Linked DNA regions of Homo sapiens. The protein of the gene in region 1 interacts with the protein of each later gene in a pairwise test. Each region holds a gene or a part of one and is shown in the gene's direction. Other genes may lie near its edges.

The links. Proteins that work in one complex are often made in the same cells at the same time.
Region 2: the proteins of PSAT1 (region 1) and CDH1 interact in binary tests that used the Homo sapiens proteins (3 or more experiments, as listed by UniProt).

What each region holds. Positions count from the first base shown.
Region 1 is NC_000009.12:78,300,033-78,303,787, forward strand, and holds part of PSAT1 (phosphoserine aminotransferase), read left to right. Parts: intron 1-569; coding exon 570-630; intron 631-1,921; coding exon 1,922-1,991; intron 1,992-3,755. UniProt on the Homo sapiens protein: Involved in L-serine biosynthesis via the phosphorylated pathway, a three-step pathway converting the glycolytic intermediate 3-phospho-D-glycerate into L-serine.
Region 2 is NC_000016.10:68,831,250-68,835,004, forward strand, and holds part of CDH1 (cadherin-1 isoform 1 preproprotein), read left to right. Parts: intron 1-2,040; coding exon 2,041-2,250; 3' UTR 2,251-3,755.

The sequences.
Region 1 (3,755 bases):
ACACAAAGATAAAAGTAGTGTAATGAACCTCCAAGGACCCATCTCTGAGACTCAACAATTATCAACATTGTGCCAGTCTTGTTGCAGCACCCTGGGACGAATCTTATTCACAGCAGGCTCTTCCTTCTTCCTGCCCACCCCACGCTTCCCAGTCTAGCACCTTAGACCAAAAGAGATCGGAAAATTGAGTTACCTGTATAATCTGGGCATAATTTTTTTATCGTTGTCCCTTTAACCCAGAACTTTATGCATTCTTTACTTTAGCTTTAGGAGAGTGGTGAATGAGATTTGTGAAGGGGACATTTTCTAGGGAATCGGTAAATTCGGGCCTTTGGAAAAAGTGTATCAACATCAGTCACATTGCCTAATTTCATGCTTACCTTGTGTGTAAGTTGCATAATCGCTGGCTTTGTGGACATGGGAAGGAAGGAGACTGGCTGTGGGTGGGGATGGAAGCCTGGGGACCTCACTGTAGACCCTTCCTTGTCCCCTCGTCAGGTTTGTATGTTCAGAGGGAAAGCAGTGCAGAACATATTTAAATAACCCTATTTTCCTTTATTTTTTTCTAGGTGTTGTTAGAGATACAAAAGGAATTATTAGACTACAAAGGAGTTGGCATTAGTGTTCTTGGTAAGATTTACTTTTGAATTCTGTGAATGTCCATGTTTCAAAGGAAGCTTTTTTTTTTTTTTTTTTTTTTAGAGGCAGGGTCCTGCTCTGTCACCCAGGCTGGAGTACAGTGGCGTGATCATAGTTCACTGCAGCCTCCAACTCCTGGGCTCAAGTGACCCTCCTGCCTCAGCATCCTGAGTAGCTAGGACTATAGGTACACATCACCACACCTGGCTAATTTTTTTTAAATGTTTAAAACATTTTTTAAAGATCCCATGAGATGGGATCTCACTTTGTTGCCCAGGCTGATCTGAAACTCGTGGCCTGAAGCCATCCTCCCACATTGGCCTCCCAAAGTTTTGGGATTACAGGCTTGAGCCACTGAGCCCTGGCCCAAAGGGAACTAATTTAAATGCATCAAATATAGAATTACAGGGCCTATAGGGTCTTCCTATAGGCCTTTATAGATACATTTTTAAACTTTAATAGCTTGGGTTGCATGTCTGATAGAAACCATTTTGAAAATAGCATAAATGCTGGTGAGAGGTTCTGACATCTCAGCTTACCCTGTCATAATTGGTTTTTGCTAATCATAGGATTTAGGATCAGAAGATACTGTATATTTGCATAACAGTGCCTCCAAACATTTATAATATTGCTTTACATTCAATTTACAGTTTTTATTATACTTAAATACAACCTCATTAAAGTTTAAAAGTACATAAGCCTTTTATGAAGACCTCGCACATTGATAATCTTATTAAGTTTCCCCTATATTTTTTGGGAAGAGGACCTCTGCATTCTAAAACTTATTTTCTTTTATTTTTGGCGGTTCTGAAGACTGCATGGTATTAAGAGACCATAGGGTTAACTATATTGCTTATTTCTGTTAAATTTTGCTCCTGTTGGTTTGGGACATATACTTAGATTTCTGTGAAGTGAGATCACAGCATGGAATTTTGTGCTCCAGACCTAAAGGGCAACTGTTGCACATGGATTCCTGTTTGTGAGAAAGAGATGGTAAGAAGAATCACAGAGAGCATCACGGAGTGATGAATTAATAAATAACTTGCTCAGTGAATGTACCACTTGAAAAATCCTTCTGCCATGACTATAAAGCTAAAATGTTTGCAATTTGAAAATCAGTTTGTATGGTCCCCTAAACTAAGTGAGCCTTGGCCCACAATTTGAATGCAGAATAACTGAAATTTCCCTGTATTGTTGTTTACTTGCAAATTTCGTAGGTATTTCTGTTCATTTGGTTTTGAGCTGGAATATTTGTTATTGTTGTTTATCTTTCCTTTCACAGAAATGAGTCACAGGTCATCAGATTTTGCCAAGATTATTAACAATACAGAGAATCTTGTGCGGGAATTGCTGTAAGTTTTAAAAAGACCAAATCATGTTACTTTTGTTAGATACTTCCTAAATCTGGATGTCTTCCAGTATTTTCTACACTCTATTGTTTGTTCAGAATATTTCATAATTTAAAATAATCCTTGTAAGATTCTCTCCAATTCACTATTAGTACCTAACGCTTTTTATTTGTTCCCCATCCCGTGTTTATATGTTTTTGTTTTTATTTTATGTGATATTTCCAAAGATTTGAAATCATTGTATCTAGGAATGATTTTTCAGCACTGTGGCAGTTAAACTGGTGTGAAAGAGATGTAAATGACACAGAAATGGTCATCTTTGTCAGCATAATTGACTATAAACTAGTTCAGGTGTTCTCGAAGTTTGAGTCTCATACGATCTGTCAGAGTCACCTGGTTAGGGGGAATATTAAAAAATTCAAGTGGGGCCGGGCAAGGTGGCTCATGCCTGTAATCCCAGCACTTTGGGAGGCCGAGGCGGGTGGATCGTGAGATCAGGAGATCAAGACCATGCTGGCTACCACGGTGAAACCCCATCTACTAAAAATACAAAAAAAGAAAAAATTAGCTGGGCATGGTGGCGCATACCTGTATTCCCAGCTATTCGGGAGGCTGAGGCAGGAGAATCGCTTGAACCAGGGAGGCGGAGTTTGCAGTGAGCCGAGACCGTGCCACTGCATTCCAGCTTAGGTGACAAAGCGAGACTCCGTCTCAAAAAAAAAAAAAAAAAAAAAAAAAAAATCAAGTGGTGGGCACCACTTAGTCCTGCTGAATCAGAATCTCTGGAGAGACTTTATTTTTAACAGGCTCTTTGGGTAATTGTAAGAGTTCTGAACTGTAGGAACTACTGCTTAGACGAAATCTCCTGGGTTATCTGTACTGCCTTTCCTATCCAGAGAATCCCTTATTCTTAAATAGATTGCTATTTAAAGGAGAGATTTTTATATATTATATAAACATGTTCACATAAACCTACGAATATAGCAAGTTTGAAAGCATACCATTTTTTTTCCTGCTCACAGAAATAATGCACATTTATGGTAGGAAAAACACTGTAGCTCACAACTAAACTGAAATTAACTTTAACCCCACTAATCAGGGATAATCACTAATATGTTAGGACCCATTCTTGCATTATTACATTAACAAAATTGGAATTATACTGATTATTTCAAGTTTTCTTTTTCAAATTGCTTGATAAAATGATTCAGATGGGGCAGGCTTGGTGATATTTCTGTGAGGAGCTGTAGACGCTAATTGCAATGTGAATGTTCAGAGCTGGTAGCCATCTGCTTGGCTTCTCTCGTCCATTGGCCTGCTGAGTATCATGTCACATTCATAGGACAATCCTGTCCTTCATGGAGTGGGTATTTGGAACATCAGCCTGGGAGAGATGACATTTGACCACATGGCTATGAACTTCCTCTGACTGGGGTCCCAGTTCAATTTAAGGGCCTATCTTTTCTTCTCCTAACCTGGTTCCCACCTTGTATACCTGTACCTAGACCTCGGCCTGGTTTCTTTCCATCTAATTCTTGGCCTTGTTAACTGCCCTGCATCTGAATAATGTGAACCTGGAACTCTGTCTTGGGTTATCAGTCTTCCCAGCTGCTAAGAACCTCATGGCCAGAGTCTCCTAAGACCTGCTGGTTGCTTGCTATCCTACTAAGCACTGAATATAGGCCATACATCTTTCAGGACAAGATATTTACACTCCTACCACCCCATTCCCCAAGACCCTGCCACATTGCCCTGCCCTTTATTAAT
Region 2 (3,755 bases), on another chromosome or scaffold:
TTTTTTTTTAATTTTATTTTTAGTAGAGACAGGGTTTCACCATGTTAACCAGATGGTCTCGATCTCCTGACCTCAGGTGATCTGCCTGCCTTGGCCTCCCAAAGTGTTGGGATTACAGGCGTGAGCCACCACGCCCGGACTGCTTTAGCTTTCTATGGGAGCTGTCACTGAGGACTGTGAGGCACTGCAGTGTTAGAAGTGATCAAGCCACATTCATTTTAGCCACTGGAAAAAACAAGAAACAGAAAGAAACCAGTTTAACCATGCCTTTTATTTATTTATTTATTTTTATTTTTATTTTCATTTTTTGAGACAGTTTCACTCTTGTCGCCCAGGCTGGAGTGCAGTGGCGTAATCTTGGCTCACTGCAACCTCTGCCTCCTAGATTCAAGCGATTCTCCTGCCTCAGCCTCCCAAGTAGCTGGGATTACAGGCACCACTACCACGCCCAGCTACTTTTTCTATTTTTAGTACAGATGGGGTTTCATCATATTGGCTAGTCTGGTCTCAAACTCCTGACCTCGGGTGATCTCCCTGCCTCGGCCTCCCAAAGTACTGGGATTATGGGTGTGAGCCACCGCTCCTGACTACAGACCCCTTTTAGATACATCTGGATTCAGGCCTTTCCTCCATTCATACTCATTTGCAAGTCATCACTTGTATTTGCAGTTTTTATTTAAACTATAAAAATAGTATGCTAAAAAAGAACAAGATCATGTCTTTTGAGGAAGCAAGATCATGGGTGGAGCTGGAGGCCATTATCCTTAGCAAACTAATGCAGGAACAGAAAACCAAATACCACGTGTTCTCACTCATATGTGGGAGCTGAATGATGAGAACTCATGGACACAAAGAAGAGAACAACAGACACTGGGGTTCGCTTAAGGGAGGAGAGAGAGAGGAGCAGAAAAGATAACTACTGGGTACTGGGCTAAATACCTGGGTGATGAAATAATCTGTACAACAAATCCCCATGACATGAGTTTACGATTTGTTACCTATATAACAAACCTTCACATGTACTCCCAAACCTAAAAGTTTTTTTTTTTTTAAGTATGCTTGCTATTTTAAAAATATAAATTATGGTGTGGGGGTACACACCTGTAATCCCAGCTACTCAGGAGGCTGAGGCCAGAGAATCGCTTGAACCCAGGAGGTGGAGGATGCAGTGAGCCGAGATCATGCCATTGCACTCTAGCCTTGGTGACAGAGCAAGACTCTGAGACTCCATCTCAAAATAAATAAATATACTTTATTTATTTCATAAAATGAAAATATATAAAGAAAAGGCCGGGTGCAGTGGCTCACGCCTGTAATCCCAGCACTTTGGGAGGCCGAGGCAGGTGGATCACCTGAGATCAGGAGTTAGAGACCAGCCTGGCCAACATGGTGAAACCCCGTTTTTACTAAAAATACAAAAATTAGCCGGGCATGGTGGCGCATGCCTGTAGACCCAGCTACTTGGGAGGCTGAGGCAGGAGAATCGCTTGAACCTGGGAGGCAGATGTTGCAGTGAGCCAAAATCACACCATTGCACTCCAGCCTGTGTGACAAGAGTGAAACCCTGTCTCTAAAAAAAAAGAAAAAGAAAAAAAATACAAGTCCTTCCTTAGTTCCCACACCCCCACTCCCCAGATTTAACTGTTAAGCATTTGGCATTTATCCTTCCAGGCCTTTCTGGGTGGAAATGCAGCCTGCATGCACCAGTATGCAAAGCTTCCAGCTCTGCCCATCCCAGCTGGTGGTGTGGCAGCCCCACTCTGATCTATGGGGACTCCATCCTGACTGGTTGGTGCTTGCATCTCTCCTGCCTACATATAACTCACCATTTCACTTTCTCTTTCCATCAACAACATATCCTGTGCTTCTGCATCCTTCCATGACAGTGTGTATAAATGTACGTTGTTGGTGTTCACTGCTCCGTGGTGTGCCACAAGTCTGGGTGCATTGTCGTACCTTACATATTGCTAGACTTCTTGCCCCAGATGACAGGTGTGCCCTTCCTTTCACTAAAAGATGCTTTTGTCCCTTCTTCTTTAGAATCTGAAAGCGGCTGATACTGACCCCACAGCCCCGCCTTATGATTCTCTGCTCGTGTTTGACTATGAAGGAAGCGGTTCCGAAGCTGCTAGTCTGAGCTCCCTGAACTCCTCAGAGTCAGACAAAGACCAGGACTATGACTACTTGAACGAATGGGGCAATCGCTTCAAGAAGCTGGCTGACATGTACGGAGGCGGCGAGGACGACTAGGGGACTCGAGAGAGGCGGGCCCCAGACCCATGTGCTGGGAAATGCAGAAATCACGTTGCTGGTGGTTTTTCAGCTCCCTTCCCTTGAGATGAGTTTCTGGGGAAAAAAAAGAGACTGGTTAGTGATGCAGTTAGTATAGCTTTATACTCTCTCCACTTTATAGCTCTAATAAGTTTGTGTTAGAAAAGTTTCGACTTATTTCTTAAAGCTTTTTTTTTTTTCCCATCACTCTTTACATGGTGGTGATGTCCAAAAGATACCCAAATTTTAATATTCCAGAAGAACAACTTTAGCATCAGAAGGTTCACCCAGCACCTTGCAGATTTTCTTAAGGAATTTTGTCTCACTTTTAAAAAGAAGGGGAGAAGTCAGCTACTCTAGTTCTGTTGTTTTGTGTATATAATTTTTTAAAAAAAATTTGTGTGCTTCTGCTCATTACTACACTGGTGTGTCCCTCTGCCTTTTTTTTTTTTTTAAGACAGGGTCTCATTCTATCGGCCAGGCTGGAGTGCAGTGGTGCAATCACAGCTCACTGCAGCCTTGTCCTCCCAGGCTCAAGCTATCCTTGCACCTCAGCCTCCCAAGTAGCTGGGACCACAGGCATGCACCACTACGCATGACTAATTTTTTAAATATTTGAGACGGGGTCTCCCTGTGTTACCCAGGCTGGTCTCAAACTCCTGGGCTCAAGTGATCCTCCCATCTTGGCCTCCCAGAGTATTGGGATTACAGACATGAGCCACTGCACCTGCCCAGCTCCCCAACTCCCTGCCATTTTTTAAGAGACAGTTTCGCTCCATCGCCCAGGCCTGGGATGCAGTGATGTGATCATAGCTCACTGTAACCTCAAACTCTGGGGCTCAAGCAGTTCTCCCACCAGCCTCCTTTTTATTTTTTTGTACAGATGGGGTCTTGCTATGTTGCCCAAGCTGGTCTTAAACTCCTGGCCTCAAGCAATCCTTCTGCCTTGGCCCCCCAAAGTGCTGGGATTGTGGGCATGAGCTGCTGTGCCCAGCCTCCATGTTTTAATATCAACTCTCACTCCTGAATTCAGTTGCTTTGCCCAAGATAGGAGTTCTCTGATGCAGAAATTATTGGGCTCTTTTAGGGTAAGAAGTTTGTGTCTTTGTCTGGCCACATCTTGACTAGGTATTGTCTACTCTGAAGACCTTTAATGGCTTCCCTCTTTCATCTCCTGAGTATGTAACTTGCAATGGGCAGCTATCCAGTGACTTGTTCTGAGTAAGTGTGTTCATTAATGTTTATTTAGCTCTGAAGCAAGAGTGATATACTCCAGGACTTAGAATAGTGCCTAAAGTGCTGCAGCCAAAGACAGAGCGGAACTATGAAAAGTGGGCTTGGAGATGGCAGGAGAGCTTGTCATTGAGCCTGGCAATTTAGCAAACTGATGCTGAGGATGATTGAGGTGGGTCTACCTCATCTCTGAAAATTCTGGAAGGAATGGAGGAGTCTCAACATGTGTTTCTGACACAAGATCCGTGGTT